Homo sapiens: one gene and its partners. The protein of the gene in region 1 interacts with the protein of each later gene in a biochemical or structural test. Each region holds a gene or a part of one and is shown in the gene's direction. Other genes may lie near its edges. The genes, in order: FBH1, RNF20, RAD51 and SKP1.

Evidence for each region.
Region 2: the proteins of FBH1 (region 1) and RNF20 form a complex in vitro, tested with the Homo sapiens proteins (one study listed by BioGRID).
Region 3: the proteins of FBH1 (region 1) and RAD51 form a complex in vitro, tested with the Homo sapiens proteins (2 studies listed by BioGRID, with this or other methods).
Region 4: the proteins of FBH1 (region 1) and SKP1 form a complex in vitro, tested with the Homo sapiens proteins (one study listed by BioGRID).

The regions. Positions count from the first base shown.
Region 1 is NC_000010.11:5,914,243-5,921,266, forward strand, and holds part of FBH1 (F-box DNA helicase 1), read left to right. Parts: coding exon 1-27; intron 28-1,160; coding exon 1,161-1,329; intron 1,330-1,991; coding exon 1,992-2,214; intron 2,215-3,177; coding exon 3,178-3,265; intron 3,266-3,347; coding exon 3,348-3,434; intron 3,435-4,099; coding exon 4,100-4,236; intron 4,237-7,015; coding exon 7,016-7,024. UniProt on the Homo sapiens protein: 3'-5' DNA helicase and substrate-recognition component of the SCF(FBH1) E3 ubiquitin ligase complex that plays a key role in response to stalled/damaged replication forks.
Region 2 is NC_000009.12:101,543,838-101,550,861, forward strand, and holds part of RNF20 (E3 ubiquitin-protein ligase BRE1A), read left to right. Parts: intron 1-929; coding exon 930-1,048; intron 1,049-2,982; coding exon 2,983-3,129; intron 3,130-3,299; coding exon 3,300-3,377; intron 3,378-3,561; coding exon 3,562-3,681; intron 3,682-6,768; coding exon 6,769-6,948; intron 6,949-7,024. UniProt on the Homo sapiens protein: Component of the RNF20/40 E3 ubiquitin-protein ligase complex that mediates monoubiquitination of 'Lys-120' of histone H2B (H2BK120ub1).
Region 3 is NC_000015.10:40,690,371-40,698,190, forward strand, and holds the start of RAD51 (DNA repair protein RAD51 homolog 1), read left to right. Parts: upstream 1-4,803; 5' UTR 4,804-5,055; intron 5,056-5,161; exon of another isoform or gene 5,162-5,256; intron 5,257-5,263; exon of another isoform or gene 5,264-5,495; intron 5,496-7,820.
Region 4 is NC_000005.10:134,152,945-134,159,968, reverse strand, and holds part of SKP1 (S-phase kinase-associated protein 1), read left to right. Parts: intron 1-1,373; coding exon 1,374-1,514; coding exon of another isoform or gene 1,515-1,541; exon of another isoform or gene 1,542-2,200; coding exon 2,201-2,236; 3' UTR 2,237-7,024. UniProt on the Homo sapiens protein: Essential component of the SCF (SKP1-CUL1-F-box protein) ubiquitin ligase complex, which mediates the ubiquitination of proteins involved in cell cycle progression, signal transduction and transcription.

The DNA.
Region 1 (7,024 bases):
AGGTGGTGAAAATTATGGCCTTTGCCGGTAAGGGAGCCCACATCAGGTTCACGAGGTGGTGGTTTTCTGCCTTTTCTCCCTACATCCCCTTCCCGCTACCTGCCAGGGCATCTTTGCTCTGATCTGTCATCCAACTAATAATTCAATAACAGATCAAATAATCAATCTCAAAAGCAATTGGCCAAGGAATACTTACTTCCCCGGACCACTCCATGAACATCCACAGAATTCCTGTTGAGACAGGTAGTTCACAGCAGTTAGTTGGTCGGGCAGATGCCCCCGGGATTGAGCCCAGCATTGTGATGTTTGCTCAGGCACTGATTGCTTCTGGAGAGGGAGGGCATGTTAATCCCCAGCCCAGGGTTTCAGGAGCTCCCCAGTTTTATAGGGTGATGTCTAGAGGGCCTGCCTTAGATTGGCTTTTAACTTACATTCATAAATATATTATCTACAAGTGTCCTGCCTCAGTCAGCCACGCCGATCCACTCACAGCCTCCTGAAGTACTTGGTTACTCTTTCATCACAGCCTTTGCTCGTGCTATTTGCTATTTTTTTTCTGCCTGTAATCCCTTCCTGCTCCTTTTGTGGCTAAATACCCTGCTAACAACAACAACAACATTTTGAATGCCTGCAGTGTGCTTGGCATTGTGCTGATCCTGATAGCATTCCGTAAGGTTGCTTAGTTATTCTTGTTTTATAGAGGAAGAAACTGAAGCACAGAGAGCCTTGCCCGGGGTTGAATAAGTGGATAGGTGGTGGAGGTGGAATTCAAAGCTGGACCTGTCTCTCTCCAGAGACATGCCTTCCCCCTCCCTAACCCTACCCTCCTATCCTGAGGGGTCCTTTTTGCCCTCGGGAACCCTACCTCTAATGGATACCCACTTATTTCTGAGAAGCAAACTGAAGCTCATGAGGTCAAGGGGTCCACCTGTCCTTTGCCCCTCGGCTGGAGCCTGCCCCAGCTGAGATCCCAGCCCACCTTCACCTGGCTTTGAATCTGCTGCTCTTTTGGTGGCACTACTTTTACCAGCACTGAAAAACTTGTTACTGTCCTGCTCTCAAGACAGAGGTGTGATAAGCCTGGACAAGGCCTGATTGGGGATCCCTGGGCATGTCTTGTCTGGTCAGAGGGTCACCTCCTTTCCTCCTGGCTTCCCCAGGCACTGGGAAGACCTCAACGCTGGTCAAGTATGCAGAGAAGTGGTCTCAGAGCAGGTTTCTGTATGTGACATTCAACAAGAGCATCGCAAAGCAGGCCGAACGCGTCTTCCCCAGCAACGTCATCTGCAAAACCTTCCACTCCATGGCCTACGGGCACATAGGGCGGAAGTGAGTACTGCTGTCACTAGTGGCACTGTTGCTGCTGGCACGGTCGCGTCTTACTGTTTTCCCGTGACGATCACATGTGAGCTTACACCACAGTGACCCCGAGGAGTGTAGTGCTGTTATCTCCACTTACAGGCAGGAAACAAATACATAGGTTTAGCCATTTGTACTTTTATCCTGTAGCAACATATTGTTTACATATAATGCCGTCTTGCCAAGAGGGGTGTTCTCATGGAAGTGAGGCACAGAAAGTCAAAATGACTTGCTTAAAGTTCAGAGTCTCACAAATCCTGATCAGTTGTAGGCTTTTCTTGGAAGGGAGTGAGGAAGACTCAGCCGAGGCACACTTGACCCAGGTCTCCTGGATGTAGAGGCATCAGGGAACTCCAAGGGTCCCTCCGGGGACCTTCTGGAGCCCAGCTTCATGGTGGAATAGCAGTGTCTGCCGAAAGCTGGTTCCTATTCTGGGTTGGTACATGTGAGTCCTGAAAGCCATTTCCAGTCAGACATGGACCATGCAGAACTTTTTCGCTTTAAAACATTAACACTCGCCTGTGTGTGGCACTTGAAGCTACCTCCTGGTGACATTAGAGAGAATGGAGGGGACGTTCAATAGCACCAAGCCAGGAGAGCCACGTGCTGTTCATTTGGGATGGGTATTGCAGGTACCAGTCAAAGAAGAAGTTGAATCTCTTCAAGTTAACACCCTTCATGGTCAACTCCGTCCTTGCTGAAGGGAAGGGTGGATTCATAAGAGCCAAGCTTGTGTGTAAGACTCTAGAAAACTTCTTTGCCTCGGCTGACGAAGAGCTGACCATTGATCACGTGCCTATTTGGTGTAAGAACAGCCAAGGACAGAGAGTCATGGTTGAGCAGAGTGAAAAACTGGTGAGTGTCTAAGTGTCTGAAGTGTTAGGGATCTGAGGATGGGGGAACAGGGGAAGTGTTAGGGATCTGAGGATGGGGAAACAGGGGAAGTGTTAGGGGTCTGAGGATGGGGAAACAGGGGAAGTGTTAGGGGTCTGAGGATGGGGAAACGGGAAGTGTTAGGGATCTGAGGATGGGGAAATGGGAAGTGTTAGGGGTCTGAGGATGGGGGATCAGGGGAAGTGTTAGGGATCTGAGGATGGGGGAACGGGAAGTGTTAGGGATCTGAGGATGGGCAAACAGGGAGTGTGGGACAGCATTATTTCTTCTTTCATTTCTTCAGACCTGGTCATAGGAGGTTGAAGGTGGGAGGGTGAGGCTGTAGGCCCATGGTGATGGCTGTGAATTGTTGGGTATTTTCTCCTGTGAAGGACACTGGTGACCATCTCACTTAAGCCTCGGAATAGTCCTCCCATTTAACAGAGAAGGCAGACATGGAACGACCCGCCTCAGTTTATAAGAGCTTGTCACTGGGGCTCCTGGACCTCAAAACTGATCTTAACTGAAGGCTGGAATCTCTCCTGATTTTCTTGGGTTATTGGTTCTATGGAATAGATTTTGCTAGTGGGAAAGTCTGTTTCTTTTTTTCATCAAGTCTTTTCAATCATGTGCCATTGTTTTTGTGAATTAAGCATCAGTCATAAATCTAGAAGAACAATTTGGCCTTTTCTGGTTCACCTAACTGTTATGATCTCTGTCCTGTCACGGGCATGGCACGGCCCGGCTGCTTCCTGTCTCAGCACTGGAGACCCTCTGGCGTGGAGAGGCTGTTGAGGAGACCCAGGAGGTTAGGGTGGTGTCTGCGGTCCCCCTTCTGTGAGGATGCCCTGGCTCCACTGCTGTATGGGAGTTGACAGTGTGACCGCAGGGTGCTGCCTTTGCCAGGGTCTCAAACTCTGGGTTACCATATGCTTTACTTCCTAGAATGGTGTCCTTGAAGCGAGCCGCCTCTGGGATAACATGCGGAAGCTGGGGGAGTGCACAGAAGAGGCGCACCAGATGACTCATGACGGTAGGCGGCTGCCGAATGGCGGGGACTGGCCAATGGGACTGCCTTCCTGGCGTTACAACTCCTGCGTCTCTCCTTATTTTAGGCTACTTGAAACTCTGGCAGCTGAGCAAGCCTTCGCTGGCCTCTTTTGACGCCATCTTTGTGGATGAGGCCCAGGACTGCACACCAGGTGATACACTGTTCAGGACATCAGTAGTGTCAAATACGTAGAAACAGCGCCATGATTATGTAAGAGGACACCTGTGTGAACTAAGTTGATTATTATTATTTGTGATAAAGAAGAGGATCTTCATACTTACCTTAGGATTTCAAGCTGCCCCTTCCCCTCACCCAAGCAGATTTCTCTGTCACCATAGGTTTTGCTTAGGTTGTTCTTAACATGTTGACCAAGTTGTAGACCAGCAGACGACAGGGACCTAGACTCATGCTCTGTGGGAAGAGATCGTCCATTGACAGGGAAAAGCTTGTGTTGTCTACTTCTCAAGTGGCTAGGAGAGAACAGACAGTGTTATCCGTCTGACTTTGTAGGTCAATTTTGAGTGCTATAATATTAGAGAAGACACTGCCTCATTTTAGATTTGCCTGTGTTGTTTTCTTATATTCCAACAATTCATCCAAGGCGAAACATAATCTGCATTCCTAGCACCAGAAACTGTTTCTTTTGTCCATTATAAAATGGCTGCTTTTGATGGAGTGTGCCTGTCCTACAGGAAAAGGCGACCGTGAGGTCCAGTGTGCCCTGGCTTAGCTTCGTGGAAGTGTTTTTGTCCTTTTCTTTTTGCTGCCTGGGGTGGAGGCCTCAAGGTTTCTCACTTTTCCTCTCGTTGGTTACAGCTATCATGAACATAGTTCTGTCTCAGCCATGTGGGAAAATCTTTGTAGGGGACCCGCACCAGCAGATCTATACCTTCCGGGGTGCGGTCAACGCCCTGTTCACAGTGCCCCACACCCACGTCTTCTATCTCACGCAGGTAAGTGCGCACTCTGCATGGGAGGCATTGCATCTCTCTCCCAATGTCTTACGTGCCAGGCCCTGTGAAAGGTGGTATGCCAGGCTCACCAGATCTAGCAAATCCTTGCTTCTAAGCCATGGTTCTCAAAGTGTGGTTCTCAGGGGTCTGCCAAGTCACACTGTTTTCATAAGAGGTGTGTGCACAGCGGTCGTCTGAGGAAGAGCTGCTGCGGCTGAACTGTGAACCGATGGCTGCTGCCGCCTTGTACATTTGTGCTTAGAACAGTTGTTAGACCAGCGCTGGTTGTTCAGACTTGTGTATTTGGCACTTTTTCAAAGACAAGTGAAACAAGCTGCGACTTCAGGGAAAATAACTGACAGTGTTTGTTGTCAAAAGTAACATCTTTGCTTTCAAGTGAAATTAAAATGTTGGCAAACTCTCCCATAATGAATGTGACAACTCACAGTGTCCTTGATTATGCGAAAAGTTTATTATGCGCTCCTTCCTTTCCAATCACATGTCTGTGTGAGGTTGAATTTTCTTCATGTGTGTCAGCCAAGACAGTATATCTCAGCAGGCAATGCAGATGTGAACACAGGAAGCCAGCAGTCTTCTGTTATGCCAGGCATTGAAGAGATTTGCAAAAATGGAACATGGTGCCACTCTTCTTGCTGCATTTTTTTTTGTTCTCGGAAATATGTTTCAAAAAATATGTTCTTTATGTCATCATATAAGAGGCTTTTGGCTGGGCATGGTGGCTCATGCCTGTAATCCCAGCATTTTGGGAGGCCAAGAAGGACAGATCACTTGAGGTCAGGAGTTCAAGACCAGCCTGGCCAACATGGTAAAACCCTGTCTCTATTAAAAATACAAAAATTAGCCAGGTGTGGTGGCTCCCGCCTGTAGTGTCAGCTACTCAGGAGGCTGAGGCAGGAGAATCACTTGAACCCAGGAGGCAGAGGTTGCAGTGAGCCGAGGTCGCACCATTGTACTCCAGCCTGGGTGACAGAATGAGACTCTGTCTTAAAAAAAAATAGTTTTTAATAGTTATTTTTAAATGAATTAAAATTTATAATATGGTAAATATAGATAGATAGAGCTCATGTAAATAAAAGCTCTTTGGAGGCTTTTTAAGTGTGATTTTTAAGTGTGAAGCATCCTGAGACCAGCAGTTCGAGAACCACTGCTTTTAAGAAACTTATTTCTGATTAGAAGAGATGTCTCACTTGGATGAAAGTATCAACTGTGCTGTGTTTTGTGATGTTATTGAAAGTTCCGTAGACGCCTCTGTGACTCTTCCCTTGAGCTCCTACTGCTGTGGTGATTTAGGGTAGCGTCACTGCAGAGGTGATTTGTTCTTTTAATAGATGGTATTTTTTTAGAACAGTTTCAGATTTACAGAAAAATCGAGAGGAGAGTTCCCATATATCCTGTACTCAGTTTCCCATTACTAACATCTTATCGTCTTATATTAATGTGGAACACTTGTCACGATAATGAACCAACATTGATACATTATTATGGACTGAAGTCCATGGTTCATTTGCATTTCCTTAGTTTTGAAATAATGTCTTTTGTGACTTCAGGAGCCCATCCAGGATCCCACATTACATGTAACCATGTGTCATGAGGCTCTTCTTGGCTGTGACAGTTGCTCAGACTTTCCCTATTTCTGATGTGACCTTCACATTTTCCAGAAGTTCCAGTCAGGCATTTGTAGGCTGCCCCTGTGCTGGGATTTGTCTAATGTCTTTTCTCATGGTTAGGCTAGAGTCCTGGGTTCTGGGAGGAAGACCACAGAGGTGAAGCGCCATTTTCATCACATGGTGTTGAGGTGCATACTGTCACCATGGCTCATGACTTGATGTTGACCTTGACCACCTGGCTGATGTAGTGTTTGTCAGGTTTCTTCACTGTAGAGTTCCACTTTTTTTCATCCTTTCCTTACTGGATGCTTTGGAAGGAAGTCCCTATATGCAGTCCACACTCAAGGAGTAAGTGTTGGAGAATCTTCCCAAATTATTTGGAATTCTTCTGTAAAGGAGATTTGTTTTTTCTCTCCCATCTATTTAAATATTCAATCATTTATCTATCTTAATATGAACTCATGGATATTTATGTTATAATTTCGGTTATGGTTCACTCAGAGTAGTTTTATAGCAACAAAGTAGTGTTTGTTTAAAGTCTAGTTTTCGTTTGACTGTTACTGCTATTCACCAAAGCACATGAAGTTGTGTGTGCATGGAAAAAGGCTGTACACACCCCGAGTGTAGGGAAGAATGATATCTTGCCAGCTGGAGGGGCGAAGGAAGCAGGGTCTTGGGCTGAGTTTTGAAGGTTAGGAAGTGACTTTGGTGGATGAAAGTCAGACAGAAAACCGCGTGGGCTGAGGCAGGGCAGCACGGACAATGTGCAGGTGCTAGTGCTTCTGCCATGGCTGGTTGGTGCAGGGCAGTAGTTTTAAAGGTAGTGTGGAGAGGGATCTCAAAGGCAAGGGGAGAAGCCCTCCTTACCCGATCTTCATCTTTTGTATGATTTAGACTTCACTAGATTTGATTTGGAGAAAAGGGTAGATTTGCTTAAAAGAAAAATTTACTATTGGTGTTGAGAATAATGGAAAATAAAGACTGCTGAGTTGTGAAGGACCTTGAAAGTGAGCCTGTGAAGTTCGCTTTCCATGCGGGGGGTCAGGAACAACTTGTAGGGTCTGGCCCGGCCAGGCTGTGGCAGCAGTGATGGAAATGCACGGACACACCACAGGGCGGGCTGCTGACTCCCTCTGTCTTGTTGTTTTCAGAGTTTTCGG
Region 2 (7,024 bases), on another chromosome or scaffold:
TTTTTGGCTTTGCCCATGGAGGTTCTTATTAAGTAGGTATGAGATAGGTCCTAGGGAAATGTCTATTTTAAAAGTTCCACAAGTGATTCTGATGGGCAAGCCTAGCTTGAAAACCATGAAAACCACCATATGACCAACCTGTTCTGTATTGATACTAAGAGTAATGCCAAGAGGTGATATGAGAAAGCATATTTTTCTTCCTGATAACTCTCTTTGATGGGTGGTATATATCCTGAGAGTATCTGGTTTCATTTAATTACATTTGGATTTCAGCTATAGTATTTGCAACTCTAATTTTAAACATACGAACTTGGTGTAATAAGTTCTATGGATTTACCTACCTGCTTTGTAAATAGTAGTGTACATTTTGGTTTTTAAGCTTCAGAAGTGCCCCTAACATAGTATTTCAGAATATATGATATGAGAATATGTGATAAGAGCATATGATTCTTGCTTTGTTATTCAGGCTGGTCTTGAACTCCTGGCCTCAAGTGATCGGCCTGCCTTGGCTTCCCAAGGTGCTAGGATTACAGCGTGAGCTGCTATACCTGGCCAAGGATACACAGTTTTAAAATTTGACACTATAGGCCAGGCACGGTGGCTCACACCTGTAATCCCAGCACTTTGGGAGGCTGAGGTGGGTGGATCACCTGAGGTCAGGAGTTTGAGACCAGCCTGTCCGACATGGTGAAACCCCATCTCTACTAAAAATACAAAAATCATCCGGGTGTGGTGGCATGTGCCTGTAATCCCAGCTACTCTGGAGGCTGAGGCAGGAGAATCGGCTCGAACCCTGGAGGCAGAGGTTGCAGTGAGCCGAGATCGCGCCACTGTACTCCAGCCTGGGCGATAGAGCAAGACTCCGTCTTAAAAAAAAAAAAAAAATGACACTCTAGATGCTAAATTAAAGTATAGTTCTTCTTCCCCAGATAATCTGATAGTGGAGGAAGCAGTGCAGGAGCTGAACTCTTTCCTCGCACAGGAGAATATGAGGCTACAGGAATTGACAGATCTTCTTCAGGAAAAGCATCGCACCATGTCTCAGGAGGTACTTAACCAAAAAGGAGAGATGGCTGTGTCTAGTGGGCTGTGGCAGATGTTGACTTACAATTCTGAGCACCTCAAAGATTACCTTACTCTAGAAGGCCTATCATATCATAGGGGATTTTGTAAAACACAACACAACTCCAAACCTCCAAATAATGAATTACCCTAAATATAAAAGACTGTATAGTGTTATTGAGGAATGGCGTGGTAGAAATTCCACAGGGAATGGGGAAGTAGAAACTACTGTATTGATGATGTCCTAGGAATTTGAGGAATGTCAATTTTCAGTCTAAACTTGGGTGCAAATAATGCCATGATTAAACCATGCCAAGATTTGGACATTTATTTATTTACACAAAATGATCAAGATAAAGTGATGATAGGCCTTAAATGACTTTTCTGATACTTCTGATGATCATTTTGATTTAGTTCAAAATATATTCTACTGGAATTTGCCCCACCTTAGTTTGGCCACTGAATTCTTATGCTAATTAGTAATTTAGTAGTTGCCATTTACTTAGTGCCTAGAATTTAAGCACTTTATGAATGTTATCTCTAATGGCAAAACAACTCCCATTTTATTGCCAAAGAAACAAATTCAAAGAGGTTAGTGATTATTCTGAGGGCACATAGCTAGAAAGTGATTGAGCTGTGTTGTGACTGTAGGTCTGTTTGACTTCAAAGCTCTTGTTCTTCATATGCCTTTGTTTACTAAACCCCAGTGTTAAGGTCCATGCTGGCCTGGTTGCATGAATATCATCTGGGGAATTTATTAATTCATATGGATTATCCTGGACCTTCAAAGGGGTTAGAATGTAGTAGCCCTTATAAATAAACTGGAGTCTAGTAAGAAAATAGAATATTTTTATCATGTTTTAAGACATTGACTAGGTGCTACCAAGATGGAGAGGTCTTCCTTTTCTAGCCCTTTGACAAATCTCAGATAGTATTACTAACCTGGAGGGCAGTTGTTTGCTAAACTGTGATGTCCTTGTTGGCTCTCATGGCTGGCTGTTGATGCTGCCTGTCAGCTGGGTTAATTGTCTACTGGGATACCTGCAGTTTGCCTCTCCATCATGGTAGTCTCAGGATGGTTGGAATTTTTACATGTTGGCTGACTTCTTCCAGTGAGCATCCCAAGATCACCAGGTAGAACCTTCATGGCCTTTCTGATATAGCCTCAAAATTGTGTAGTGACATTTCCATTGGGTCTCTAAAGTTGACCCAGATTCAAGAGGAGGGAACAAAGATCCCACCTCTTGTTCAGAGGACTTTCAAAGGATTTTTGTGTCATGTTTTAAAACCTAGCACAAAGGGTATATATAGATTAATGTGAACTTGTAATAGTTTAGTAGTTAAAATACTAAATAGTGTTAGCTGGTGTATAGCTCCTAAATAGAGTATCTGACTTTAGATTATAGTATAATCTATACTGTATTGTATCTGACTCTAGATTGCTCTGGGGTGAGCTTAAAAAAGAGTATGGAAGTTTTCTTTTGTTGTGAATGAATGGATTACCTTTTGTGGGACTGTGGAGAGAAATTTGGGGGTAAAAATGGTTTTTTTGAAAAAATATTTATCTTACAAAACAAAAGATACTATTTATTATCTCTTAAAAAATTACAAAATTTTTATGAGTTTGTGGTCTGTCCAGAGAAATGGTGCTTTTCAGAGGTAGAAAAATTGTTGAATCTTAGGTGGTCTTTTCTTTGTGTGAGAGTTCTTATAGACTTTAGACTTAAAGTTTGCATGATTATAACTGACACAGAATTGTTGGAGGAATCCGTGATTTCATTTTTGTAATCATGCATTGGGAAGAGGGTGAAGCATCTTCTATTTGCCTCTTTTCTATAATTACTCATAAGCAAGGGTTAATATTATGGAATTTGGTCTTTTTTTGCTATATGTTTCTGAATGTTTGTCTTTGGGATGTAGTTCTCCAAGTTGCAGAGTAAAGTGGAGACAGCCGAATCACGAGTGTCTGTCCTGGAGTCCATGATTGATGACCTGCAGTGGGATATTGACAAAATTCGAAAGAGGGAACAGCGACTCAACCGACACTTAGCAGAAGTCCTAGAACGGGTCAGTGCTGTTTTATGGCTTGGAGACTAGAATCATTTTAAGGAGTGTTCTCAGGAAGACTCACCTTGGGGCATGGTATTTGAGGAAAAAATCTCATCCTTTGAAGGTACATTGGTTATAGACTGAAATCTTAAGAGTCTCTCACTAAAGAATCTTTGTGTTCTCTGTAGGTGAATTCCAAAGGTTATAAGGTGTATGGAGCGGGGAGCAGTCTGTATGGCGGCACAATCACTATCAATGCTCGGAAGGTAAAATCAGTGACTCAGGACATGTTTTGGACTGTATGTCAGCTTTCATGCTTAGGTACTTAGGACTGTGTTCACAAGTGACATCATGGGGTTTTGCTGGAATAGCGAATCAGTGAAGAAAGGAAGCTTAGAAATGATTTAAGAAGAATACTTATTTATTCTCTATTTTTCTGCTTCTCTGCAGTTTGAGGAAATGAATGCAGAGCTTGAGGAGAACAAAGAGTTGGCTCAGAACCGTCTCTGTGAGCTGGAGAAACTTCGGCAAGACTTTGAGGAGGTCACTACACAAAATGAAAAGCTGAAGGTAGGAACGCATCCCTGAAGGGCAGTAAAATCAGACGTTCTGCTGATCAACTCACGTATATACATAGTTGTGAATCTGCGTATTCATGAGGGATAAGAAAAATGTAGACAAAATCCAACATCCTTTTATGATAAAACTCTTAACAAATTAGGTGTAAAGAAGTGTACCTCAACATAATAAAGGCCATATAAAACAAGCCCACAGCCAACATTATACCCAATGGCGAAAAGTTGAAAGCTTTTCCTTTAAGATCAGGAACAGGATAAAGATGCTCGCTGTCATTACTTTTGTCCTAGCCAGAGTAATTAGGCAAGGATAAGAAATAAAGGCCTCTTAATCAGAAAGGAAGAGGTAAAGTTGTTTCTGTTTATAGATGACATGACTTTATATATAGAAAACCTTACAGGCTCCACGAAAAAACTGTTAGAACTATAAATGAATTCAGTAAAGTTGCAGGCTACAGAATCAACATACAAAAACAATTGTGTGTCTATATACCAACAACAAACTCTATAAAAAAGAAATTAAGAAAACAATCCCATTTACAATACCATTAAAAAAAATTGTGAATAACCTTAACCAGGGAGATGAAAGAACTGTACACTGAATGGATAAAGAAATGTGGTGTGTGTTTGTATGTGAGTGTGTGTGTGTATATGTGCAACAGCATGGATATATTTAGAGGACATTATGCTAACTGAAATAAACCAAGCACGGAAAGGCAAATACTGCATGATCTCACTTGTATGTGGGATCTAAAAAAGTCAAAATCTTGGAAGCAGAGTGTAGAATGGTGGTTACCAGGGTTGGGGAAATCGGAAGATGTTGGGGAAAAGGTACAAAGTTTTAGTTATGCAGGATGAATAAGTTCTGGTGATGTGTAGCATGGTGACTATAATTAATGCTGTATTGTGTACTTGAAATATGCTAAGAGTAGATCTTAAATGTTCTTGCCACACACGAAAAGATAACTGTGAGGTGAAGGATTTGTTAATTAGGTGGATTGTGGTAATGATTTCACAGTGTATATGTATAGCAAAATGCCACATTGTATACCTTAAATATGTATAATTTTTATTTGTTGATTATACCTTAATAAAGCTGGGGGGAACAAAGAAAAAATGTTAAGTTTTGTTGATATATCTACTTCTTTACTTACATATTTACTTATTATATGTACTCTGCCTTGCCCTGAAAAGGATTTAAAGCAACATACAAAGATATGTAGACTAAATCAAGGTGCTGTAATGTAGGAGTTGTTGAGAAAAATGAGAAGTAGGGTAAACTAGGGTGAGGATCCAAAATGCATTAAAGTGGGGCTTGTATACAAGATGTTTGCAGGGGGCATATATATACTGTGGAAGGGAGGCCATTCACATGTCAGTGCTTACCGAAGTGATTCCACAGGTTTGGCTCTGCAGTTTTTTGCTACCAAAACAGAGAAAGAAACACGATTGGTGATCCTGTTGGTCTTCAAACCTGCCCAGAAGAATTTTCTTCTTAGGTTGTTAGTGTAGGGGCCAGCCCCACAGGGTCGGTGGGTCTCTCCCTGTGTGCGGAGACGAGAGAGTGTAGAAATAAAGACACAAGACAAAGAGATAAAAGAAAAGGCAGCTGGGCCTGGGGGACCACTACCACCAAGTTGCGGAGACCGGTAGTGGCCCCAAATGCCAGGCTGCACTGATATTTATTGGATACAAGACAAAGGGGCAGGATAAGGAGAGCAAGCCATCTCCAATCGTAGGTAAGGTCACGTGGGTCACATGTCCACTGGACAGGGGGCCCTTCCCTGCCTGGCAGCCGAGGCATAGAGAGAGAGGAGACAGAGAGAGAAACAGCTTATGCCATTATTTCTGATAATTAGAGACTTTTAATACTTTCACTAATTTGCTACTGCTATCTAGAAGGCAGAGTCAGGTGTACAGGATGGAACATGAAGGCGGCCTAGGAGCGTGACCACTGAACAGGTTAGGCCTCCGGATAACGGCGGACGAGCCTGACTAATGTCAGGCCCTCCACAAGAGGTGGAGGAGTAGAGTCTTCTCTAAACTCCTCCCGGGAAAGGGAGACTCCCTTTCCTGGTCTGCTAAGTAGCAGGTGTTTTCCCTTGACACTTACGCTACCGCTAGACCACGGTCCACCTGGTAACGGGCGTCTTCCCAGAAGCTGGCATTACCGCTAGACCAAGGAGCCCTCTGGTGGCCCTGTCTGGGCATAACAGAAGGCTCGCACTCTTGTCTTCTGGTCACTTCTCACTGTGTCCCCTCAGCTCCTATCTCTGTATGGCCTGGTTTTTCCTAGGTTATGATTATAGAGCGAGGATTATTATAATATTGGAATAAAGAGTAATTGCTACAAACTGATGATTAATGATATTCATATATAATCATATCTAAGATCTATATCTGGCATAACTATTCTTGTTTTATATTTTATTATACTGGAACAGCTCGTGTCCTCGGTCTCTTGCCTCGGCACCTGGGTGGCTTGCCGCCCACATCTTAGGAGAAGAAAAGAGATTCTGGAAGTCTTTCTCACTCCTCTTTCGATCATAGTCATCTCTATTTTACAAGTTGTTTGTAGGTTAAATGATATGAATAAAGATGTTTGAACTGAAAAATAAAAAACAAAAACAACCTAAGTTAAATCAGTTAAAAGTGTTTGAGTAATTAAATCAGATAGTTGCTTAGGAGAGGCATAACTATTTTTGATACCCTGTCAATTTTTTTCTCTGTCACTGTTATTAAAGAGAACAAGTTAGTGACTGGGGTCCTCAACTATGTTTTTAAAATAAGCATCCTGACAAATTTCACTCTTCTGGTGGCTCATTTGACACAGAATATAAAACACATATCAAAACAATTCTAGGAGGAAAGAATACAGTATATCCAGGTACCATCTCCTAGTTAGTCTAATTTAATTTTGGGGTAGATTTTACATAACTACAGCAATGGGTAGATAACTTAATAATCTTTATAAAATTGTCTCTCTTGTGTAGGACATCAGTGAGTTCAAAATTTTACTTCCTGTCTAGCGTCTGGGGCAATGCTAGATTCTGCTTCTGACTTTGCTTTGGGCCCTCCTAAGGTGGAATTGCGGAGTGCAGTGGAGCAAGTCGTTAAGGAAACTCCAGAATATCGCTGCATGCAGTCACAGTTCTCCGTCTTGTATAATGAGAGCCTACAGTTGAAAGCACACTTGGATGAGGCTCGGACCCTGCTTCATGGCACCAGAGGAACCCACCAGCACCAGGTTGAGCTTATTGAGGTAATAGCCTTGCCTTGTCTTTTGTATGTAAGCTTTCTTGCCTCCTAAATTTTACAATTTTACTCCCTCATGTGCA
Region 3 (7,820 bases), on another chromosome or scaffold:
TCATTTTGTAAGCATACTAGAGGAGGTGAATTAGGAGCAGATTAGATCACTTGATACACATTACCTTATATATAAAGAATACATATATATGTATGTGTGTGTGTATGTATCTCTATATATATACATTTATATATATGTATTTATACTTTTTTTTTTTTTTTTTGAGACAAAGTTTCACTCTTTCGCCCAGACTGGAGTGCAGTGGTGCAAGGTGCAATCATAGCTCACTGTAACCTTGAACTCCTGGGCTCAAGCAATCTCCCCTCCTCAGCTTCCCAGACAGCTAGGACTACAAGTGTGCATCACCGCACCTGGCTAATTTTTAAAAAAAGGTTTTTTTTGGCCAGGCGCGGTGGCTCACGTCTGTAATCCCAGCACTTTGGGAGGCCGAGGCGGATCATGAGGTCTGGAGTTCGAGACCATCCTGGCCAACATGGTGAAACTCCATCTCTACTAAAAATACAAAAAATGAGCCGGGCGTGGTGGCATGTGCCTGTAGTCCCAGCTACTCGGGAGGCTGAGGCAGGAGTATCGCTTGAACCTGGGAGGCCGAGGTTGCAGTGAGCCCAGATCTCACCACTGCACTCCAGCCTGGCGACAGACCGAGACTCTATCTCAAAACAAAAACACAAAAAAAACAAAACAACATTTTTTTTTGTAGAGTTGGGGGGTCTCACTACATTGCCCAGACTAGTCTCTAACTCCTGGCCTCAAATGGTCCTCTCACCTCAGCCTCTCAATGCACTAGGATTACAAGTGTGAGCCACCACACTCCAAAATTTTTCAATTAACACATTTATAAATATTCTCAGAGAATGCCAATTTAACTATTAGAGGGAAATCTAGTTTGCCTTATTTCCAAGTTCTCAGTGGGTTGTTTTGGAAGAAAGGAACAGAAACTACTCAAACTAGTTTAATCAATAAAAATAGAAGGTAGAGTTATTGGAATGTAGGGATATCTCATAACTCAAGAGCATTAATCCTTAAGAGTTCAAGGTTTTTTTTTTAAAAAAAAAAAAAAAGTAAAAAAGAACCCAAGAGCAGGAGGAGTAAGTACTGCTAGGCTTCTGAGAAACTGGAAAGGCGATCTGGAAAGGAGTCAGAATTCAAATGGTTTATTTATCTTTGACTCTCTCCTTAGTATCTCAATTTCTTTTTCTTTTTCTTTTTTTTTTTTTTTTTGAGACAGAGTCTTGCTCTGTCATCCAGGCTGGAGTGCAGTGGCACGATCTCAGCTCACTGCAACCTCTGCCTCCCAGTTTCATGCGATTCTCCTGCCTTGGCCTCCTGCGTAGCTGGAGGCTAATGTTTGTATTTTTAGTAGAGATGGGGTTTCACCATGTTGGTCAGGCTGGTCTCGAACTCCTGACCTCAGGTGATGCGCCTGCCTCAGCCTCCGAAAGTGCTGGGATTACAGGCTTGAGCCACCACACCCGACATCAATTTCTTAATCTTTCTGCAGATGTGCTTTCTCTGATTGGACATTCACACACATCTATCTGTGTACTTTGCCCCATAAATTCCTGAGGTCAGACTTGAATATAAAGCCAAGTCTAATTTTCCAGGAGCAGGAAAATGATTGGCCAATTTGGGGCCAGATGAACACTGCTGGTACAACTGGTGGCCAGAAAGGTAAAAGTCATGTGACTACAGTCAGCTAGGAGGAGGGCTGTAGGTTTGCAGATGCTCTAAGGGTGTGGGAAGAACCGGAGGCAAAGGTGTGTAACTTTGATATGGAAGAAAGTTCACTATTATCACAGGTAGTATCTATAATCACTAAGTTAGGTTGTTTCTACATCCAGAAAGCTGCCTGAGTCTGTTCTCTCTGTCATTCCTCTAATTCAGAGGACCCCAACGCCCCAACACAGACCTGTCGCCTATTAGGAACTGGGCTGCACAGCAGGTGAGCAGCTAGCAAGCAAGCATTACTGCCTGAGCTCTGCCTCCTGTCAGATCAAGGAGAGCATTAGATTCTCACAGGAACTCAAAACCTATTTTGAACTGCACCTGTGAGGAATCTAGATTGCACACTCCTTATGGAAATCTAATTGATGATCTTGAGGTGCAACAGTTTCATTCCGAAACCATCCTCTGCCTCATGCCCACCCCCCGAGCCCTGTGGAAAATTGTCTTTCACAGAACAGCTCCCTGGTGCCAAAAAGGTAGAACTGGAATCTAATCCAAATCTTCATCTCTTTGTTGAAATATTGCAAGAACTTCCTTTTTGGTGTCTTCACTTTCACGCTCCTGAAATCTGTTCTTCAACGCCACAAGGTAATAGTGTGAGGATTAACTAAAAACTTTGTCAACTTTAAAGCACTCCACAAATATAAAGTAGTAATAAGGCCATTGCAATGGTTCACACCTGTAATTCCAACACTTTGGGAGGCCAAGGTGGGAGGATCACTTGAGGCCAGGAGTTCAAGGCCAACTTGAACAGAGCGAGATGCTGTCTCAAAAATAAAAAAATAAGGCCGGGTGCGGTGGTTCACACCTGTAATCCCAGCACTTTGGGAGGCCACGGTAGGTGGATCACCTGAGGTCAGGAGTTCGAGACCAGCCTGGCCAACATGGTGAAACCCTGTCTCTACTAAAAATACAAAAAATTAGCTGGGCGTGGTGGCAGGCGCCTGTAATCCCAGTTACTTGGGAGGCTGAGGCAGGAAGACTCGCTTGAATCTGGGAGGTGGGGTTGCAGTGAGCTGATACCACGTCCCTGCACTCCAGCCTGGGCAACAGAGCAAGACTCCATCTAAAATAAATAAATAAATAAATAAATAAAAATAAAAATAAATTGGTAAGTGGAGGGAAAATAGATCTAACCAAATGACTTGTCTTCTTAAAAACTTCAATGATTTCTTCAGTACCTAGAGACCAAAGCTCCTTACCTTTTTTTTTTTTTTTGAGACGGAGTCTTGCTCTGTTGCCCAGGCTGGAGTGCAGTGGCGTGATCTCGCTCACTGCAACCTCCACCTCCCGGGTTCAAGCACTTCTCTGCCTCAGCCTCCCAAAGAGCTGGGATTACAGGCATGCACCACCACGCCCGGCTAATTTTTGTAGTTTTAGTAGAGATGGGGTTTTGCCATCTTGGCCAGGCTGGTCTTGAACTCCTGACCTCGTGATCCGCCCACCTTGGCCTCCCAAAGTTCTGGGATTACAGGCTTGAGCCACCGCGCCTGGCCTCTCCTTACATGTTTTGTTGTTGTCGCTTGTCTTTTGAGACAAGGTCTCACTCTGTAGCCCAGGCTGGAGTGCAGTGGCCCATCATAGCTCACTGCAGCCTTGACGTCCTGAGCTCAAGCAGTCCTCCCACCTCAGCCTCCGGGATAGCTGAGACCACAGGCACAAGCCACCACGCCCAGCTTATTTTTTTTTTTTTTTTTTTTGAGATATGGGGTCCCACTATGTTGCCCAGGCTGGTCTCCAACTCCTGAGCTCAAGCGATCCTCCCCCACCTTGGCTTCCCAAAGTGCTGGGATTACAGGTGTGAGCCACCGTGCAGGCCTTATATGATCTTCATATCCTGAACTAAATGTAACCTTCCAGTTTCGGCACTTGCTCTGGCACTTTTCCTCCCTCGCCAGATAATACTAATCTTTAATCATGTAGTTCGTTTCCATGCCCATACTACCCTATTTGCTTATAATGTCTTCCACTTCGCCCAAGAATCCCTACTCAGCTAGCTTGTGGTGTTGTTTTGACACAGTCTCGCTCTGTCGCCCAGGCTGGAGTACAGCGGCGAGATCTCGGTTGGCTGCAACCTCCTCCTGAGTTCAAGCGATTCTCATGCCTCAGCCTTTCGAGTAGCTAGGATTACAGGCATGTGCCACAAAACCTGGCTAATTTTTGTATTTTTTACTAAAGACGAGGTTTCACCACGTTGGCCAGGTTTATCTCCAACCCCTGACCTCAGGTGATCCGCCTGCCTTGGCCTCCTAAACTGCTGGGATTACTGGCGTGAACCACCGCGCCCGGCCCTACTCAGCCTTTAAAACCGGAATCACGGGTCAAAACTTTCTGGTAAACCACGATACGGTTTAGGTTATGAAATTCAATGCCCCCTTCCTCTGAACTCCTGCAAATCTCCAGTAAAGCACCACAGATTGACGAATATTCCAGCCATTTCCCTCTCCCGTACGCTAGCTCCATTTCCCACTTCTATCCATCTTCTCGAGCTTCCTCAGCTCCTCCACCTCCATGAGGCCTGGAAAGCACCTTGCTCCAGGAATGCGAGTAGGAGGCTCAGAGCGACCAGAAGTGCCAAAAGCTGACATTCAGATACTGCCGAAACAAACCACAAGAGCGCTAGGGCCCCCGCTAATAGTCCAGCTGCGATGGTGAGAACTCGCGGACCCGCCGGCGATGCATGCCGGGAGATGTAGTCCCGGGCCGACGCATTACCTCTTGGGAGTCGTGGTCTTCGATCTGGTAAACAGAAGACGGCAACTCGGTTAAGTCTTCCCCCACCGCCCCCTGAAATCCCTCGCCCCACCCGCGAGGGACTGGGGTAGGAGTAGGGGCGTTGCCGTGGTTAGCCTCGAACTCCTAGGCTCAGACGATACTCTCGCCTCGGCCTCCCGAGCAGCTGGGACTACACGCGTGAGCCACCGCCCCCGGCATAAAGTTTGAATTAGTCCTTACGCAAAAAGGGAAGAGGGCAGTCTGTAAACTCGCGCAGGATCAAGCTCTCGAGCTCCCGTCTTGGGTTAGCGCGCAGGGCGGAAGCGGGGAGAAGGCGGATCCGGGAGGCGGGGATACGTTACGTCGACGCGGGCGTGACCCTGGGCGAGAGGGTTTGGCGGGAATTCTGAAAGCCGCTGGCGGACCGCGCGCAGCGGCCAGAGACCGAGCCCTAAGGAGAGTGCGGCGCTTCCCGAGGCGTGCAGCTGGGAACTGCAACTCATCTGGGTTGTGCGCAGAAGGCTGGGGCAAGCGAGTAGAGAAGTGGAGCGTAAGCCAGGGGCGTTGGGGGCCGTGCGGGTCGGGCGCGTGCCACGCCCGCGGGGTGAAGTCGGAGCGCGGGGCCTGCTGGAGAGAGGAGCGCTGCGGACCGAGGTGAGTGTGTGAGGCGCAGGCTGGGCCCTCCAGAGCCGCGGCTCGTCCTCGCCCACCTGCGTCCTGGCCGGTCCAGTGCTCAGCGGCAGTTGGGGCCTCCGCGCGCAGTGTGAAACCCGGACGTGGCAGGGCGTGTCCGCGCCCGACCGACCCTCAGCTGCTGGGGCGAAAACACAAGTGGACCTCAGTCTTTAGAACTAGGGGAGAAACATTAGAGCCTTTATAGGCAACACCTATTTTATGGGTTCGAGCGAGAAGTCCGAGATCAGAGCGGTGTAGCCACAGCTGTTTAATATCACAGCCAGGGCTTCCGGATTCCTGATCTGTCTTTCCATTACACCGTGCTTAGAAAGTACCAATCTCCGATTGCCAAAACAGTGTTTTCATCATCTAATGCGGAAAACCATTCACATGATGCCTAGAGAATGATCTGAAGTGAGGTTTGGTTTTCTTAAAACTTTTTTTTTGAGATGGAGTCTCGCTCTTCCGCCCAGGCTGGAGTGTAGTGGCGCGATCTCGGCTCACTGCAACCTCCGCCTCCCGGATTCAAGCGATTCTCCTACCTCAGCCTCCCGAGGAGCTGGGATTACAGGCCCCCACCACCACGCCGCCAGGCTGATTTTTGTATTTTTAGTAGAGACGGGGTTTCACCATGTTGGTCAGGCTGGTCTCGAACTTCTGACCTCAGGTTATCCACCCGCCTCTGCCTCCCAAAGTGCTGGGATTACAGCCGTGAGCCACAGCGCCTGGCCCCTGTTTTTTTGTTTGTTTGTTTGTTTTTAACTTCTAAAGCGCAATGTAATATACATGTAGAAAAATTCACATTCACAACTGTATACAACTCCGTGAATTATTACAAAATATACTGGCCGGGCGTCGTGTCTCACGTCTGTAGTCCCAGCACTTTGGGAAGTGGAGGCGGGAGGACGATTGAGCCCAAGAGTTCGAGAACAGCCTGGTCAAGATAGTGAGACCCGCATCTCTACAAATAGGAAAAATTAGCTAGGCATGGTGGCGTGCACCTGTAGGCCCAGCTATTCAGGAGGCTGAGAAGGGAGGATCTAGCCTGGGAGGTATAAGCTGCAGTGAGCTGTGATCAGGCCACTGCACTCCAACCTGGGCGATAGAGCAAGACAAAATGAATATACACCTATGTAATCACCACTTAATAGAATGGTCCTCAGAAGCCTTCCTGTGTAGTATTTAATATTTTCCCCTTTTTACAGTGGTAACTGCTATACTGGTTTCTAATGAGATGAACTAATGTTGCTTGTTTTTGAATTTTATATAAAAATACATCAGGAGTGTTGAGTGTTTCGTTGTTTCACATGCTTGCCAACACGATATTTTTCAGCCTTTTTGATTTTAACTATTCTGCTGGTTACACAGTAATGTCTTAATGTGATTTTAATTTTCCTGATTAATAATGATGTTGGACATCTGTTCATATGTTTTTGCCCATTTTGATATCTTCTGTGATGTGCTTGTTCAAATCTCTTGCCTATTTTTCTATTATCTTTTTCTTACTGATGTGAAGTTCTTTATATACTGGTTATCAGCCCTCAGTTATGTTTGTGCTAAATGTTTTCTCTACTGTGGTTTGACTTGTCACTCTCTTAGTGGTGTCCTTTGATGAATAGAAGTGCTGAATTTATTTTTTTATTATTTATTTATTTATTTATTTTTCCTTTTGAGACAGAGTTTGGCTCTTGTTGCCCAGGCTGGAGTGCAATGGCACAATCTTGGCTCACCGCAACCTCCGCCTCCCGGGTTCAAGCGATTCTCCTGCCTCAGCCTCCCGAGTAGCTGGGATTACAGGCATGTGCCACCACGCCCAGCTAATTTTGTATTTTTCTTTAATAGAGACAGGATTTCTCCATGTTGGTCAGGCTGGTCTTGAACTCCTGAACTTAGGTGATCTGCCCGCCTTGGCCTCCCAAAGTGCTGGGATTGCAGACGTGAGCCACAGTGCCCAGTAGAAGTGCTGAATTTAAATGTAGTTCAGTTTTCAGTCTTTTCCTTTTTGGCTAGTGCGTTATGCATCCAGTTTCAAGAAATCTTTTTCTGTCCCAAGGTTGTGAAAATAATAAGTGTTACTTTGTTTTTGACAGACGATTGTACATATTTATGAGATACAAGATGATATTTCTTTTTTTTTTTTTTTTTTTTTGAGACGGAGTCTCACTCTGTCGCCCAGGCTGGAGTGCAGTGGCGCGATCTTGGCTCACTGCAAGCTCCGCCTCCTGGGTTCACGCCATTCTCCTGTCTCAGCCTGCCACCACGCCCAGCTAATTTTTTGTATTTTTTAGTAGAGACAGGGTTTCACCATGTTAGCCAGGATGGTCTCGATCTCCTGACCTGGTGATCCACCCGCCTTGGCCTCCCAAAGTGCTGGGATTACAGGCGTGAGCCACTCCACCTGGCCCAAGATGATATTTCAATACATATATACATTGTATAATGAATGATCAAATCAGGGTAATCAGCATATCCATCAGTTCACTTAAACACTTGTCATTTCTCTTTGTGATGAGAACATTCAAAATACTCGCTTCTGGCTATTTTGAAGTATACATTACATTAGTGTTTACTGTAGTCACCCTACTGTGAAATAGAACCCTAGAACTTATTCCTCCTATCTAACTGAAACTTTGTGCCTGTTGACCAACCTCTCTCCTTCCTGCCGCCCCCTGCAACAGCTGCATTCTCCTCAGTCTCTGGTTACCACTGTTCTATTTGTTCCTTGTATGAGATGAACTTTTTTT
Region 4 (7,024 bases), on another chromosome or scaffold:
GCTCACGCCTGTGATCCCAACACTTTGGGAGGGTGAGGCGGGTGGATCACTTGAGGCTAGGAGTTCAAGACCAGCCTGGCCAGCATGATGAAACCCCATCTCTACTAAAAATACGAAAATTAGGCCGGGCGCGGTGGCTCACGCCTATAATCCCAGCACTTTGGGAGGCCAAGGTGGGCGGATCACGAGGTCAGGAAATCGAGACCATCCTGGCTAACATGGTGAAACCCCGTCTCTACTGAAAATATAGAAAATTAGCCGGGTGGGGTGGCAGGAACCTGTAGTCTCAGCTACTCGGGAGGCCGAGGCAGGAGAATGGCATGAACCCGGGAGGTGGAGCTTGCAGTGAGCCGATATCGCACCACTGCCCTCCAGCCTGGGTGACAGAGCGAGACTTCGTCTCAAAAAAAAAAAAAAAAAATTAGCTGGGTGAGATGGCACCCACCTGTAATCCCAGCTACTTGGGAGACTGAAGCAAGAGAATTGGCTGAACCTAGGAGGTAGAGATTGCAGTGAGCCGAGATCACGCCACTGAATTCCAGCCTGGGTGACAGAGTGAGACGGTGTCTTAAAAAAAAAGTCTCCATTGTAAAAGGATTCAGGTCATACAAAGTATGTCTTCTGACTGCAATGGAATTAGAAATCACAAACAGAAAGGTATCTGGAAAAATCTGCAACTACTTTTAAACTAACACATTTGCAAGTAACCTATGGGTCAGAGAAGAAATAGAAAGTATTTTGAGCTGAGTGGAAGTAAAACACATGAAAAATCGGTGAGATGCAGCTAAAGAAGTACTTAGAGGGAAATTGATGGAATGAAATACCTATATTATTAGAAAAGAAGAAAAGTTTCAAATCGGTGATCTAAGCTTCCACCTTAAACTAGTAAAAGATGAAATTAACTACAAAGTAAACAGAAGAATGAGAATATTAAAGGGCAGAAATCAATGAAATAGAAAACAGGTAAACAATAAAGTCAATGAAACCAAAACCTGTTTTTTAAAATGAGATCAATATAGTGCTATAACTGCTTACGTTTGAACTCTTTAAGTGTGGACAAATATTTTTGCCAAGACCTGATGTGGTATTTGTGTGCATGTGTACACACATACACAACAGTAGTGGCCGTTATTTCACATTTGAGCTAGTATAGTTTGGTTAAGGAAGCAGAAGGATTCAACATTATAGAGGTATAACAAAGAAGGTCACATAAAAGTCTTTCACAGAAGAACTTAGGAGTGATTTATTCTTCTCCCTTTAATTTCTTAAAATTAGCATTTTAAGCTTTATTAGATACGGAGTGTCAATCATTAACTTTGGATTTAGTTTAAAACATCAAGTATACTTTAAGGAAAACAACTGTCTCTTTACAGGCTGCAAACTACTTAGACATCAAAGGTTTGCTTGATGTTACATGCAAGACTGTTGCCAATATGATCAAGGGGAAAACTCCTGAGGAGATTCGCAAGACCTTCAATATCAAAAATGACTTTACTGAAGAGGAGGAAGCCCAGGTAGGTAGCACACAGTTTTGTCTTTGATCACATGCTCTTAAAAAGGGAGTAACACCTATAACATGCCAGCAAAAGAGGTGACTGTATCAAGTAGTCTTGATACTTTAGGGATAATATGTACTTAATGTGTCTTAAACATACTCTTACTGTTCTGTCTTTATGAATCTGAACACTTAGATGATACTGCATTTTAAGCATAAGAACAATTAGTTTTCAATGAGAAGAGCTCTTGTTAATGTATTAACAGTTACTAGTTTTGGCACCTGCAACTTTCTGTATAGACCATACATATCTGACATCAGAAAAGCAGGCCCTAGAGAGAAGTATATACTAGGGTACTTTAGAGCAACTTAATGAGGGGAGGAAATGAAAGAATAGATCAGAATGATTTTGTTGACATGACTACAGACTGAAATAATGTGAATGAATTAACTGAATTTGCTCTGTCAACTTTAGTAAATTGCCCATTGCCTTTGCTTTGTTCATAATTTCAGCAGGGCAGAATAAAAACCATGGGAGGCAAAGAAAGGAAATCCGGAAATATAGTCTTAACCTGGTGTTGTTCTAATTTTCCATCTGTTCTTCTGACTCAACTCACTGGCTATCGATGAATCAGTAGGTAGTATTTATAAGTCTTAGGAAAGACTACTCAAGTTAAGGTACTTCCCTATATCCATCTCTTTTAGGTACGCAAAGAGAACCAGTGGTGTGAAGAGAAGTGAAATGTTGTGCCTGACACTGTAACACTGTAAGGATTGTTCCAAATACTAGTTGCACTGCTCTGTTTATAATTGTTAATATTAGACAAACAGTAGACAAATGCAGCAGCAAGTCAATTGTATTAGCAGAATATTGTCCTCATTGCATGTGTAGTTTGAGCACAGATCCCAAACCTTACGGCCAAGTTTCTTCTAGTATGATGGAAAGTTTCTTTTTTCTTTGCTCTGAATAAAACTGAACTGTGGGTTCTCTATAAGTGGCATTTTGGGCTTTCCCTCTTTTTTGTAAAGCAATGTCTGCCTAGTTTATTGTCCAGTTAACTTTAGTGACCTTTTAAAAGTTGGCATTGTAAATAAAACAACTTGCAAAAAAGTTTTCTGGAATAGAATTAACAAAATATTATCTTTATTCATGAGTTGGAAACTGGAAAAAGGCTTCTTGAAGTAAATGTTCTGAGTGGAGCTACTAGGATGTCTTCCAGCCTCCTGCAGTCAAGGAGTACCACTGTATTGATTAGCCTGTATGTAGCAGGGCTCCCTTCATTGCATCTGAGGACTTGTTTTCTTTTTCTTTATTTTTAATCCTCTTAGTTTTAAATATATTGCCTAGAGACTCAGTTACTACCCAGTTTGTGGTTTTTTGGGAGAAATGTAACTGGACAGTTAGCTTTTCAATTAAAAAGACACTTAACCCATGTGGGATGTCATCTTTTTATAATTAGTGTTCCCATGTGGAGAAAATTATTCACACTACTTGCATGTAAAGAATAATTTAACTTTTAACATTAAAATATGTGGTAAAACCCAGAAAGCATCCATCATGAATGCAAGATACTTTCAATAAAAAGTAAGTTATATAGTAGGTAGTTAAGTTTGCTTTTGTGGACTTAAATGTGTCTCTTCACTTAAATGGGTTGAATGTGTATATATTTGTTCAGCTTGAAAAGACTTAGTTTATATCCTAGCTCACTGGAGGCTGCTGACATAACCATAACTTCTGTCCCTTCTAATTGTCATTTATATGCCTAACTGGAGCTAGTACTTTAATTCTTAACACAAAATTACTCTGCCATTGTTTCCAGCTTCCCTCCTACAATAGAATGAAGTTTTTTTGATGGCTTGAGATGGCTCACAAATTTTGATTTTTTTTTCTTCCTTGTGCTCCCTTTTTTTCTCCTTGCTTTTCCAGTTAACATCTATATTCACATGTAATCTTGTTTTCTCTTCACATTCACTGAGTTGTTCAGGCTCAGATCATCCCTTGACAGTAGTTTGCCTTCATCTCACCTTTCATTTGTCCCAAATTCACCTTATTTAATAAAGTCCCATATGTTGTCTCACTTAATTCCAATTTGTTGTCTGTACCAGAGATAGGAAACTATAATGTGTGGGTCAAATCAGGCCCATAGCCTGTTTTTGTAGTCTTTGAGCTAAAAATGGTTTTTACGTTGTAAAGAGTTATTTAAAATTCTCTCTCTCTCTCTCTCTCTCTCTCAGGAGATAAGCTTGTTTTCTGTTTGTCCTGGTTTTAGTGGGGAAGGTAGCGGTGTATAGTCCTAGCTGAATTGTCTCATCTACCAATTCCTGCTATTATAAGATCAACTTCTGCAAAAACCTTATCCACCTCAAGTATCCTTAGCAGCTGGGCATGGTGGCTTATGCCTGTAATCTCAACATTTTGGGAGGACAAGACAGGAGGATCGTTTGAGCCCAGGAGTTCAAGACCAGCCTGGGCAACACAGAAAGTCCCTGTCTCTCCAAAAAAAAAAAAAAAAATTAGCAGTCATATGGTGCATGCCTATAATCCCAACTACTTGAGAGGCTGAGGTGGGAAGATGGCTTGAGCCTGAGAGGTCGAGGCTGCAGTGAGCTGGCATTGCACCACTGCACTCCAGTCTAGGCAATAGAGCGAGACCTTGTCTCAAAAACAAACCAGAAGTATCCTTAGCAGTATTATGACAAACAAATCTTCACTGAAGGTCCAGGATTACTGCCATATGCCATGTTTAACTTGTAAAGGAAGTATCACCTTCTAAGAAACTGGAGCTTGTTATTACCACTTGATCTGTATAATACTCAGCAGTAGTTAGAATTATATGAGTAAATAACGTCACTATCCGTATTTAAAGGATAATGAGATCTTTCAGAAAGATTGGATGGACAGACAATATAGTAGTAATTTAAATTTTTGTTTCCTGACTTTCTGTAGTCCCTAAACAAACAACAAAAAATCCTAGTAATCTTAAACTTTTACATTAATAGAGATCCAAGAGAAAATAAGCCATTTTTCACCATTGTGGACCCAAATAAATCATAGACATGGTATTAAGAAGCCCTTTTCAGTCTGGTTGCAGTATTATTTTCCTACCTTTCTTTTTCCTGTTCCCTGCTGTATGCCCACTATTCCTTTAATATATCTACTAGAACTTTTCTAGGCTTTCACCTGGAGTGAGTGGTCCTTTCTCATTATCACAGTAGCCAAACCTCAGTCTTCAAAACTCCACTCATTTCTGGCTACTCTCTTACTTCCCAACTATTCTTCTAAACTAATATTGTGGCATTAAGTCATACCTTGAGGCTGGAGTTTTAGTGTCTTCATGGCCTTGGGCAAGTTGGAAATAGGTACTACGGTTTTATAGATCTAGTGCAGTCTGCTTTATATTAGTTCCAGAACTTCATTGGAAGTCACTTGACAGCAGGATTTAACTTGTATTTAGCAGCACTACTCCATGAATTTCAGTATAAGTAACAGAAGTGAAAAGTCCTTGTGAAATGCAGGTACAGGGCATAATGAAAACAAGAAGAGTAGTTTTAATGCATGAGAGGGGAGAGCTTGATAATAGCTGATAATAGCCTTGGTTTGGAGAGTGGTTACTGATGAATTATGAAGACTTTCTCTAATTACTGTTATAGTAGTAAAGGAAAGAAAACCCTTGTTGATAAAGTAAACTTAGGGATTAATTAGGAAATGCCTTTTATTTCACCAGGAAAGAGAATGAGAGGAAGAAGGTATTTGGCAGATTTGGGTGATTGAAGGATGTTTGTCGGTTTCCTCTGTAAACAACATGCTGCTTTCTGCAGTGTGCTGCTTTTAATGATGAAGTCCTTTCAAGGACTCCATGGCAGTCCTTTGGCTTCTCACCTTTTCATTGATTATGTCACTTGTGATCTAAAAGTAAACCAAAACCTTCCTGAATGTTAGCTTATTATTTTCTCCTTAACATTGTCATAGGCTAAAGATGTGCCCCCTCAAATTCTAATAATTTTTTTTTTTTTTTTTTTTTTTTTGAGACAGAGTCTCACTCTGTCGCCCAGACTGGAATGCAGTGGTGCGATCTCAGCTCACTGCAACCTCCGCCTCCTGGGTTCAAGTGATTCTCCTGCCTCAGCCTCCCGAGTAGCTGGGATTACAGGCACATGCCACCATGCCTGGCTAATTTTTTTGTGTTTTTATTAGAGATGGAGTTTTACCATATTGGCCAGGCTGGTCTTGAACTCCTGACCTTGTGATCCGCCCGCCTTAGCCTCCGAAAGTGCTGAGGTTACACGTGTGACCCACCGCACACGGCCCTAATAATTCTTAAGTTGTAGAAGCAAGTTACTCTTTTGAAGTGCCATGTGTTAGCTTGCCTTAATCTATTCTTGGTATACAAAATAGATACTGCTTTACAGTTCTTATATTTTCTCAGAGATTCACAAAATCATCCTGTAGCTCCCTGTGTGGGATTATAGCTGTGACTTTTTACTCTACAACTGTCAGAATACACCAGCTCCTGGAATTAAGCAAGAACTATATTGTGACTTGGTTGGACAGGTAACTGCAGCCTTGTAACATGACATCATAGTAATGCTGAGCTTATCTTAAAACTAGCTGGGGAGGGAGGATAGTAACAGTGAGTCACTGTGGGCATCTCACTTAGGGCAGGCAGATATTCCAAATCACATTGATTTTTCAGTTTACGTAAAAATTGACCAATCCTATGGGCTGTGTTCTGATCCCAACATAAATTTTGTTTAAGTTAATTTGCCTAGGCTCTCAATAAGGCAGTTTGGGAATATAAGGTGATTTTCCACCAGAAAAGAGAAAATTGAGAGAGCAGCAGACCTCTTGCTCTCAGCACCCTTTACAAGCTTAACTTTTGCTTGCCACCATTAGCTTTTGAAGATTTTTTTTAACTGCTCCTTGCAGAGCAGGACTACCCCATAGGCAGTGTGCCCAGAGTAGCCCGAAGAGCTTTTTGATTCTTCTTTTAAGAGACAAGGTCTCACCTCTGCCCCCCAGGCTGGAGTGCAGTGATGTGATCACAGCTCATTGCAGCCTCGAACTCTTGGGCTCCAACAGTCCTCCTGCCTCAGCCTCCTGAATAGCTAGGACTACATGTGTGTGCTACCATGCCTTGCTAGTTTTTGTTTTTTTAAATTGATTTTTATAGAGATGAGGTCTCCTCATGTTGCCCAGGCTGTTTTCGAATTCCTGGGCTCAAGATCCTCCTGCCTCAACCTCCCAAAGTGCTGGTATTACAGATGTGAGCCACAGCACCCACCAATTTTTCCTTTTCTAAAGCTCAGTGTACATTCTGGTAGGAAGGAATCAACCAAGTAAATGTTCTCCCTACAAAGTTGTTTGAGGATTTGAAAAGTTAATCTTCAATTATCTGGATTTGAAACCAGTCTATAACTTTTTAAGCTAGGAAGAAGTCAAGAATAAGAAGATTGCAAGCAAAGGGAAAGCTTACAAAATGGCTGAATCCTTAAAGTGTAGCTCCTGGCTTCTCCTTGGTAGGAAGCATT